Linked DNA regions of Homo sapiens. The protein of the gene in region 1 purifies or fractionates together with the protein of each later gene. This does not show direct contact. Each region holds a gene or a part of one and is shown on either strand. Other genes may lie near its edges.

Evidence for each region.
Region 2: the proteins of SIL1 (region 1) and EDRF1 purify together in Homo sapiens (affinity purification with mass spectrometry; 2 studies listed by BioGRID and IntAct, with this or other methods). This does not show direct contact.
Region 3: the proteins of SIL1 (region 1) and UBR1 purify together in Homo sapiens (affinity purification with mass spectrometry; 3 studies listed by BioGRID and IntAct, with this or other methods). This does not show direct contact.

What each region holds. Positions count from the first base shown.
Region 1 is NC_000005.10:139,023,694-139,027,445, forward strand, and holds part of SIL1 (nucleotide exchange factor SIL1 precursor), read right to left. Parts: intron 3,300-3,752; coding exon 3,108-3,299; intron 1-3,107.
Region 2 is NC_000010.11:125,729,698-125,733,449, forward strand, and holds part of EDRF1 (erythroid differentiation-related factor 1), read left to right. Parts: intron 1-574; exon of another isoform or gene 575-590; coding exon 591-702; intron 703-2,167; coding exon of another isoform or gene 2,168-2,228; intron 2,229-3,706; coding exon 3,707-3,752. UniProt on the Homo sapiens protein: Transcription factor involved in erythroid differentiation. Involved in transcriptional activation of the globin gene.
Region 3 is NC_000015.10:43,104,588-43,108,339, reverse strand, and holds the start of UBR1 (E3 ubiquitin-protein ligase UBR1), read left to right. Parts: upstream 1-2,301; 5' UTR 2,302-2,317; coding exon 2,318-2,398; intron 2,399-3,752. UniProt on the Homo sapiens protein: E3 ubiquitin-protein ligase which is a component of the N-end rule pathway. Recognizes and binds proteins bearing specific N-terminal residues that are destabilizing according to the N-end rule, leading to their ubiquitination and subsequent degradation.

The DNA.
Region 1 (3,752 bases):
GAGAAAGGACTGGGGAAGTTCCTGGCTAGGAAAGTGCCATCTTCCTTAAAACTAGTACTACATCACCCCAAGCCCCCATCACAACTGGGACTCGGGCCGAGTTGTGTCTTACTTAATCCCCCAGTGAAATCACAGCTTAACATTGCTGCATGGCAGCCTGATGCACCAGCCCTTCCAGTCAAAACACCAATGATCCAGAACATTTCTCTGCCAACAGACAAATTTGGCTTCTGCCAGGGACTGATTTTGGGATGACCTCAGGATGGGTCTGGTGAGGTGGCCTGTGAAAGCAGAATGGGGATGTCACCTTAGGGAAGACACTGCCAAGTGACAAAGAGCCTACAAGGGAAAACAAAGAACTTTGTTGGGGCAATGCTAGCCCAAGCCTCCTGTGGACTCACACCCTTCCAGGTATGATAAGCTCTCCAGTCATTTTGGTGTTTCATGTGCAAGAGCCCATGGTGACCTGATACCTAAAGATTCATCCAAATATGTTAAGATGAGAAAAAATAGAAGCTGTCAACATCAAAGGAGGACTGAGTTGGCAAATAACCCCTTATATCCTTAATCCTTTAAATATCTCTAATGGAAAAGCTGTTGGAGTTCTTGGTTTTTACCCTGGAGAGTAAGACTGGAAAGGGGAAAGAGAACCGAGGTTCATTTTTTTTCTCTAAGAGGATCAGAGTCCTGCTATTTGAGGCCTGAGAAAGAGTTATGAGCAGAGAAAGAAGATGAAGAGGCTGCCCCATAATTCCTATGGATACAGTGCATACTCATCCTCTTTCACCACAGATGCTGGCAAAATCCTAAAGGAAGAAAGCATGTCTTTTAGCCCAGTTTACAGAGAACAAGGGCACTGTCGTGCATGGTGCATGGGAGGACATTGAGGATCTGTGTCTTGACAAGGATCTCAAACAAGCCTTTGATTATGATTACACAGCCTCCTGGGCCACTGTTGCCCCTAGTCTGGATTACTGCAATAGCCTCCTATCTGGTCTCTGCTTCTACCAAGCCCCCCACCTGCAGTCTAATTCTCAACACAGTAGCTGGAGGAATCCTTTTAAAAGTAAGTCAGATCACATCATTCTTCTGCTCAATATCCTTCAATAATATGCAAGTTCACTCTTTTCCATGGCCTACAGGCCCTCTATATTCTTCCTCCCATTATCTCTCTGAGCTGTATGTACTTCTTCTCTGCCTGCTCTCAGCTCCAGCTGATTCAAACACACTAGGCATGTTCCCACCACCGGGCTTCCACACTTGCTCTTCCTCCAGCCAGAGATGCCCCTTCTCAATGCTGCCAGTTCCTATCTCGCCATAGTTTCTATTTTTCTACAGTATTTATTACCTACAAACATATTACATATAATTACTTCTTTCTTATGCTTGTCTATCTGCTTCTGCTAGAAGGTTAAGCCCTAATTTTGTTCATAGACGTATCTCAAGTGCCTGGAACAGTGCCTGGGAGTTAGTAGACACTTGATTTATTTATTGAATAAATCAATGGCTTTTATTGGCTCCTTGTTAGCTCCACCTTTTGAGCTTAATTCAAAAGGTACCAGTTGCCTTTGAGAAACAGAGTGGCCAAAAGTTTTAGAGCACAGAGTTTAGGGTCAGACAGACCTTGCTGCAAATTCCAGCTCTACCACTCACTAGGCTGGATGATCTTGAGCAATTACATAATCTCTCTGTGCCTCATTTTCCTCGGTTATAAAATGGGATTAATAGTGGTACCTACTCATAGGGCAGCCACGGAAGTCAATGAATTAATGCATACAGAGCACTTGAAGCAGTGCCTGGTATATGACAACACTCAACAAATATTAGTTATTATAAGTCTGATCAGTTACTTCCCTGCTTCAAACTCTCTAGTGGTTCTTAGGATCAAGGCTAAAATCATAAAGAGCATGATATCTCCAACCTCACCTCTCCAGCCCCCGAACCTTCCCACTTCATCTATGCTCCCCTCCAGGCCGCTGTGCTCCAGTCACTCCAATCTTTTCCAGGCCCTCAATCTCCCCAAGCTTGTCCCTGCCCTAGAATCTCTGCACATGTTGTTTCCTCTAGCTGGAATGCTCTAATCTAAGGATTGGCAAACTTTTTCTAAAGGGCCTGGTAGTAAATATTTTTGACTTTGTGAGCCATATGGTCTCTGTCACAACTACTCAATTCTGCCATTGTGGCATAAAAACAGCAATAAACAATGCATGAACAAATAGGGGTTGCTGTGCCCCAATAAAATTTTATTTAGGAAAGGAGGTGTTGGGCCAGATTTGACCTATGGGCAGTAGTTTGCCATCCCCTGCTCTAGTCCCCCCTCTTCACCCAGCCAACCCCAATCATCCTATAACGCTTGGCCTAAATGTCACATCCTCTGAGAAGCCTCCCTTATTGTCCATGACTAGGCTCTAAGTTCTCCAGTTACATATTCTTACATCACCCTCTGGAGCCCTCATTACAATCTTAAATTATCTCATTATTTAATTAATTTGTTCAATTGTTCATTATTCAATTACTTCCTCTTCCAGGCTATAAGCTGCATAACTAGGACTATGTCTATTTTATCTCTGTGGTACCCTCAGAGGTACTAAAGAAGGTACCACTCCACATGAAAAAGAGGTTGGCTGGCCAGGCATGGTGGCTCAAGCCTGTAATCCCAGCACTTTGGGAGGACAAGGTGGGTGGATCACTTGAGGTTAGGAGTTCAAGACCAGCCTGGCCAACATAGTGAAACCCTATCTCTATCAAAAATACAAAAAATTAGCTGGGCGTGGTGGTGCACACCTGTAATCCCTGTTGCTCGGAAGGCTGAGGCAGGAGAATAGCTTGAACCCAGGAGGTGGAGGTTGCAGTGAGCCGAGATCGCGCCACTGCACTCCAGGCTGGGTGACCGAGTGAGACTCTGACTCAGACAAAAAAAGAAAAAGAAGTTGGCTCTGGCCTCTAAGACTGTATCTTACTACAAAAGATAACAAGACTAGATTAAAAATAGTCTGTGCTCTGGGAGAGAAGTAAAGATGTTGATGCTATTTTCTTAGGGCTTAGGGAAGGGGGATTTATTTTTGGAGCTGTTAAAAGTCTGACTTATGGACGAAGAAATACAGTACCTGATGGACATAATATTCAAGATCAAAGAGCGCAGCAATCTTCTCTTCCAAACTGGAGCTGGAACTATTGAACTTGTTGATCAGCCGTACCATGATCTGCATGTCAGTCTCAATGACAACATTCAGCTCATCAAAGTCTTTCTTCAGTTCCTCAATGGGGCGGAAGAGCCGCTTTACCTCAGCCTGCCTTGCCTAAGGAGAGCAGCAAAGAGGTGATTAAATTGGTTGGAGACATCTGCCCAAGATGTCTGTGGTCTACCATGGATGCCCATCCTCAAAAAACTGCTGCTCCAAGACTCACAGTCTTCTCTCATCTATGCTATCAAAAATACTAATACTTTCTAAGATGCCCAGAGAAGACAGCCCTCAAAGTCTGCCTATATAGGCCTCAGCTCTAAAAACACACTCAAGATGTTCCAAGATTCGCTTATTCAAGTCCGATTTCCAATATTCAGGAAGAATAGAAAGGCTTTTTGTCACAACCACTGAGTTAAGGGGAAGTAATGCAAGTTCATCTTCAACCTCAAACCACATATGAAACAGCTGAGACCTAAGGTAGAATAACCCACACCCTACTTCTCCACTTCTCACAATCATAGACTATCTTGGCCTTGCCCTACCCAATCCAACAACATTTTAGGGAAA
Region 2 (3,752 bases), on another chromosome or scaffold:
AGTTGAAATGGCCACATTAAGGAAGGAGCTACTGTCAGCAGATGCTGAAAGGCAGGCCTATAGCTGAGTCTTCATTCTAGACCTCATTGAATAGAGCCAGAGGTTTGTTGGACTGGCCTAGTCTTAGGTCTGAATCTACAACTTGTGAGAATATTCAAGAGAGTTTATTTAATTAGTTAGATTCCTACTAACTACTTGTGAGCATTTTTCTTAATGCTCCACGTGTATTTGTTGATATTAGCCAATGTGAATTCCAACTTAAGCATGGTCTTGTATGGTGTTCAGTCTTTCTTCAAGTTGTGTGTGAGGAGCAGGCAGTAGGCTCACCGTCCTTTCCTATTATATTGTCTTCTATTCTTACTGAAAACTTACCAATGTCAGTTAGAAATACAAGCAAGCTTTTGGAAAGATGTTAAATATAGCACAACCACTGAGCTGCATGTGCATATCTTATCAGAAAAGAAAGCATAGATGGCATTTTCTATCTAGAGAGGACAGCTTAAGATACTTAAATGGTGAAATAACTTTCAGATGATTAATTAAGGAACATCTTAATTAAACCAAATAACACTAGAAATGTATATTTTTAGGGATAACAACAAACCAATTAATGTGCTAACTGGAATTGACTATTGGTTGGACAACTTGATATGCAATGTGCCAGAGCTTGTGATGTGTTTTCATGTAAATGGAATTGTACAGGTAAGATACAGTGTGATTTTTCTGATCTCTCAAATGCAAATTGGTACAGAGAGTTCCTCACCAAAGTCTTTACGGCCCTGAAGTACTAAGGTGCATTTTTGCCAGGGAAGATAGCTGTGAATAAACTGAATTTGAGTGTACATTTAAGTTGGTGATAACAGAATTGTAGATGTTATAGAAGTATAATTTTACAGGTAATTTGGAGGAAGTTCATAAATATATGAAAACCTGCATTTGTAGCCATAGAACTCTAATTTTAATGCCAAGCTCTCATTAATAATTAACTGAAAGTGTCTACACAATGGAGGCGTTTCTTCGTTATGCAAATATCTACTCAGTACATGCAAAGTTTTAGGGAAAGGTCTTGTAAAAATTGCATATGGTGGATAGCTTATATAGCAAATTCTTATTGAGCATATTCTGTTTAGAAGACACGTATCCCCATTATAAGTGTTGGGGGAAGCTAGGCGTGTTGGCTTATTCCTGTAATCCCAAGCTACTCAGGAGACTGAGGCAGCAGGATCACTTGAAGCCGAGAGTTCAAGACCAACCTGGGCAACGTAGTGAGACCCTAATTGTAGAAAAACAACGCACACACTTAGTTGGGCATGGTGGTACATGTCTGTAGTCCCAGCTACTTGGGGGCTTGAAGCAGGAGGATCACTTGAGCCCAGGAGTTTGAGGCTGCAGTGAGCTATGATCGTGCCACTGCACTCCAGTATGAGTGACAGAGCAAGACCCTGTCTCAAAAAAATAAAAAAATTGAGAATTTAAACAATAAATAATTGTTGAAGGAAAACAAAGAATAAGCTTGGTTGTTATTCAGAAAGAGATAATCTAATGGGAAATAATATGCAGAGAGAACAGTAGGAGACAGATAAGAATTAGAAGTGTAGCACACAGAAATCTAGATCATCAGAGAAGGGGGTGAGCACTTCCATTCAGGTCTGGAGGAAAGACTTTGTGGAAGAAGGGACATCTTAACTGAGTCCTGAATGATAGCTAGTATCTCAAAAAATAAGAGCTGGATTTTAAAAGTCTAGTGTAAATACATGAAAGGATTGATAATAAATCCAGCTAGGGAACACAGGATTTATGTAGCAGAATAGCTGCAAGTAAGGTTGGAAAAGTCATGGTCAAATGATGGAGATCTTAAATGTTGAGCTAAGGAGTATGGACTTGGTTCAGTTGGTAATCTGGAATCAGAAGGCTTTGCATCTAGGAGGGGAAATTTGTTGTGTTAGAATATTAATTTAGAGATAGCATATAGGACAGAAAAGGAGGACTTAGAGACAAGAAAACCAGAGGCATTGTACCATTTTGCAGATAGTGTAATGTACTTTCCACTAGAGAGGAACTATTAAGAATCAACAATGGTAAGAATAGATAGCATTTATTGAGTGCTTATTTTATCCAAGCACTTTGCTGAATGCTTTAAATGCTTTACCTTATTTGATCTTCTTAGCTACCTCACATGCTGTTATTCCTATTTGATGGAAAGAGAGACTGAGGATCAAGGAGCTCAAGTGAGTTGCCCAGGGTCAACTTAGTAGTGAGTGGCGGTGCCAGTCTTTGTGCCTCTCTCTGGCTGAGGACATGCTTTGAACCGTTATATTCCAACCCAGTGATTCTTAACCTGGTTGTGCATCAGAATCACTTGTGGTCTCTGAAAAAATGCACTTGCTTGGGCCCCCAGTGTTCTAGTATCAGTAGGATGTGTACTTCTGTCTTTTCTGAAAGTCTGCTGTATGATTCTGGTTTGCAGTCTTGATTGAAAACCACTGTTAGACCATCTCCCTAAATGGCAACATTTAGTGAGAGGCTGGGGTGGGAGTGGGGAGCAAGAGAAAAGAGAGAGGCAGATAAAGCGTTAGCAAGGCGGAGGGGAACAGGAGTCAAAGGAGATTCCAGGGTTTAGGGACTAGAATAATGGTGGTGCCATTTAGTGAGATAAGGATGTTGAATTGGTTTAGACAGGGAAGGTAATATGTTTTTGTCACATGTTCAGTTTGAGGAAAGTATAAAAATGTCTAGTGAGCATTTTGAAGTTGCAGCCATTAGAGAAATAAATTGAAGCATCATCTGCCTAGATACTGTCAGATTTCATCACCAGAGGAATCTATTAAAATCAGACATTGGAGCCTCTCCTCATAGGGGTAAAAATAGAAGGGCATTTAGAGAGAGAGAAGGAGAACAAGAATAGCACAGATTAAAATACAGGAAAGGAGCATTTTAAGGAAGGAAATAATCAACATTGGGGACTTCACATGAACAAAGTGGGGTGAAAATCAACCTCAGACGATTGTGTTTGGTCTTACATTCCAGTTGATTTGAAGTTTCCAGTTTTAGAGTACTTCAGAAAATGTGGTAGGAGATGGTTAGGAGAGTGTGCACAGAAGATAAACAAGAAAAATGCAAAGGCACTTTTAAAATAGTGGTAGTAATGTCCATGAAGCCTTTACTCTTATTGCCACCTCCATTCCCCCCTGCTCCATCCCTGTGAAGTAATAAAGTCCATAGATGAAGGGAAGAGAGGTGTCTACTGGAAAATTTCCTAAATGATTCTCTCTCCTTGAGTCACTGACTGTAGTTTCTAGCAAAAAAAAAGGCCAGAAATACATGTGTTTTAAAATCTTGCTGGGTAAAGCCTACCTTCATTTACCATCTTCCCAGTTGAAAACCATTCAAGTGGAATAAAAGTAGTCAGTATGATTTGTTCCATGTTAGAACAGAAATAAGATCATGCCTGAATCTGAGGTTCTAAATCTGGTAGTGATTCTCCATTGAAATTACTCCAATAGTGAACTGCCCTTGCTGATGGGGTGGATGAGATTCCTTTGGGAGGCTGGGGCAGAAAAAAGATTAAAAACCACTGGTTTAAACACTTTCATGCTACATAGGTCTCTGTTTGCAGGACTTCTGCATTTGGTTGCTTTTTAAAAAGAAAGGTGTTGTTTCCTTGGGTTTTCTCTTAAACTGCTTTCCATCTGTCTGTATTTTACAGAAATATGAAATGATAAAGACAGAAGAAATTCCCAATTTGGAAAATT
Region 3 (3,752 bases), on another chromosome or scaffold:
AAGCAGGGGAATTGCTTGAACCCGGGAGGCGGAGGTTGTGGTGAGCTGAGATCACGCCACTGCACTCCAGCCTGGGTAACAAGAGCGAAACTCCATCTGAAAAAATAAATAAATAAGCAGTTCATAATTTCCTTCTCACTTGAAATGCTGTTATCTTTCATGTGTAAAATACTTGAATTTGGTATAAAGTAATAAAGTGAAATGGATAAGAATAGGGCCTTGTGAGTCATTTGAACTGGATTTTATTTATTATTATTTTTTGGTAGAGGTGGGAGTCTTGCTATGTTGCCCATCTCAAACTCCTGGGCTCAAGTAATCCTCCCGCCTTGGCCTCCCAAAGTGCTAACATTACAGGGGTGAGCCATTGTGCTGGCTGAATATCTGCTGTGTCACTTGGAAGCTGCATGTCCCTAACCAAATTATGTAACTTCTCTAAACTTCAGTTTTCTCAGTTTCTCATGACAGTAAAATAGAAGTAGTAACATCTACCTAAAGGATTGTTATTAATATATAGCTAGTGTTATTAATATACTAGTGCTTTGATTACATTAAGATGTTGATAAGTGGCTATTATTTCTTTTTATTTTCTGTTTTTTCTTTTTCTTTTTTTTTTTTTTTGAGACAGAGTTTTGCTCTTGTAGCCCAGGCTGGAGTGCCAGTGGCATGATCTTGGCTCACTGCAAACTCTACCTCCTGGGTTCAAGCAATTTTCCTGCCTCAGCCTCCTGAGTAGCTGGGATTACAGGCACCTGCCACCACACCCAGCTAATTTTTGTATCTTTAATAGACATGGGGTTTCACTGTGTTGTCCAGGCTGGTCTCGAACTCCTGACCTCAGGTGATCCACTCACCTTGGCCTCCCAAAGTGCTGGGATTACAGGCGTGAGCCACTGCCCCGACCTATTTCTGAACGTTCTAGTCTATTTCATTTATCTAGGAATGAAAGAAGAAAAAGAGAAGAGCGTGGGGTAGCATAAGAGAACTACAGAAGTAAAAGCATAGAGACAGGAAGGGACAAGGTAACTTTTAGGGCAATTTTTATCAAAATGTGGGACAATACCTATTGTGGGTTATAGTATCACTTTAATAACTACAACCAGTATTTTGGCTTAAATGCATAAACATATTGCAATTGAATAGAAAATATGACATATTGGAAGTATTGTTTCAGAAAATTTAAGTTTCAGTATATATATACATATTCTATATATACCCATTTAATTTTGTATAGGTGTACCGTGATAAGATGTAAAATGTATTTATTGTGGTTGTTGGGCAAAAAAGGCTGGAAAAACAGTATTTTAGCACCCAGGAAGTAGTTCATTTGAGCAGAAACATTGTTTAGGCAGGAAAGTTCTATAAATCAAGGTGGACCACAGCATTTGGAAAGCCTCCTCTACTTTTCACATTGTTTGGAGCTTTATTTTCTTCCCTTTGTTAAAAATATACTTTAAAATTATTTGTTTTGTAAAAAATTTAAAATACAAATGAAGGTAAAGTAGCTCTTGACCACCTTCTTCCTCCAATCCGAATCCTGGCCCTCAGAGTTACTACTTTGCCCTTTCCCCTTTCAGACTTACTCCTTCACATTTAAATGCCTATGTGTGCAAATATATAGTTTGCAGCAACTTGGCTTTTTTTTCTCTCAATTTATCTTGATCTTTTCACGCAGATTTATCTTGCTCAAGAGCTGCACAGTATTTCAAAATGCGAATGTACCATAGTATATCTTGTCTTTCCTCTATCGATGAATGACTAGGTTTCCAATTTTTTGTTATTTCCCCCCGTGTCCCCCAATAAAGCTGGATCCCGAGCTTTTTTTGTACACATGTGCAAGTGCCCACGGGGTAGAATCCTAAAAATAGAAGATGTGTGAGTACTTTCTTTTTCATTTTGTAGGCTCTGGGGAACTACTGCAGGGAGGTTGGGATACAAAACATCCCCAGGCCAACAACCGGCCAGCTAGGACAGGTTCTTGCTTTAGCCCCCGACAAGTTTTCTTCCTTTCATAATGGACGCTGACTTTGTTTTTTTTACCTCGTAGATGCAACAGTTCCCAGCACCAAACCCAGATATACAACCATTCAGCTACCAAGAGCTACGCCTGATAAATTAGAGGGGAAAAAAAAAATCTCCAGTCCCTTCACGTCGTGACGCTTGCTTCCGGGAAGCGGGCCGGAAGCCACTCCTCGAGTCTGCGTCAAACCCGACTTCAGGGGCCGTCGTAAAAGTGTCGTCCCTGTCTCTCCGACCGGCCACAGGTTTCCGCTTGCCTCTGGCCGGGGGTCGGCAACTGCAGGCGTCAGTTTCCCTCAAGATGGCGGACGAGGAGGCTGGAGGTACTGAGAGGATGGAAATCAGCGCGGAGTTACCCCAGACCCCTCAGCGTCTGGCATCTGTAAGTCCCTATAGGCAAGTCTCTTTTGTCCTCCCCCCGGTCCCTCCCTACTGCGCTTAGGAGGATGTGGGGCTTCACCCCTTATGGCGGCTCTGGGGAGGGGGAGTTATCTGGATTGATCTGGAAGGAAGCCACCGAATAAAAAGTTAGTCGCAACCCACATTTCTGCCAGCCAAGTCTACGGAATATAATGACTTTGTTATGTATTATTCTTGATGATCTCAAGTGTGCATGTCTCTATTCTGAAGTAGAAAGAACCAGTGATGTTATTAGACGGTTTGATGTGGGGGCCGAGGCGGGGTTGGAGCAAGAGCCATTTTCGTATAGAAGCAGTACTAACCCTTTACTCTTGATGATGGGAACGCAGCACCTGGTATTTTATTGCATAGCCTGCTGGCCGGGACCTGATATTGGTAGGTAGTGCTGCTACTGTCAAGTCATGTCTAGATGTGAGGTGTAGTAATTGTCCTTGCGTATAGCATCTTGGGAACCCCAGGCCTAACCCTCAGTGGAGAAACCCATCATCTGTCGCTACTTTTTAAAGGTGAAGAAAGGACTCCCAAACATTTCAAGCCAGAGCAATACCATTAATTGATGTCGGAATCTATACTTTGCTCTTGCATTTTGAAAGAATGGGAAGGCACAGATAGTGAACAAATTTGAGTCACTAGCTACAGGGAGAAAGCTGCCGAGGAAGATAAGAGTAGGGGGCAATGTTAGGGAATGTTCTGGATGCCCAGGGCATCTAGTGTGGAGATATGTAGAAAATATTCAAATATCTGTCACCGCATGATGTTTTATTAGTTTGTCTTTCTAAATAGCAGCATTTAGAGATTTGGGATATACACATTTTTTCTGAAGTTTCTTTGGCTTGTAGTTTAATAAAAACATTATTTTATTTTATTTATTTTTTGAGGCAGAGTTTTGCTCTTGTTGCCCAGGCTGAAGTGCAGTGGTGTAATCTCGGCTCACTGCAACCTTCCGAGTTCAGGAATTGAACTGCAAATTCCCGAGTTCAGGAATTCTCCTGCCTCAGCCTCTTGAGTAGCTGGGATTACAGGTGCCTGCCACCATGCTTGCCTAATTTTTTTTATTTTTATTTTTATTAGAGACGGGGTTTCACCATGTTGGCCAGGCTGATCTCGAACTCCTGACCTCAGGTGATCCACCTGCCTCGGCATCCCAAAGTGCTGGGATTACAGATTAAAAGCATTCTTGAAGGTTTTTTGTTTTTTTTTTTAACCCTGCATACAATTGAACATTGTTTTATGCGAGAACAGAGGGAACTACAGAGGGAGCTACGGCATGAGTCAACTCCAGGGACTGAAGAGACTGTCTAGGAGGTAGGAACAAG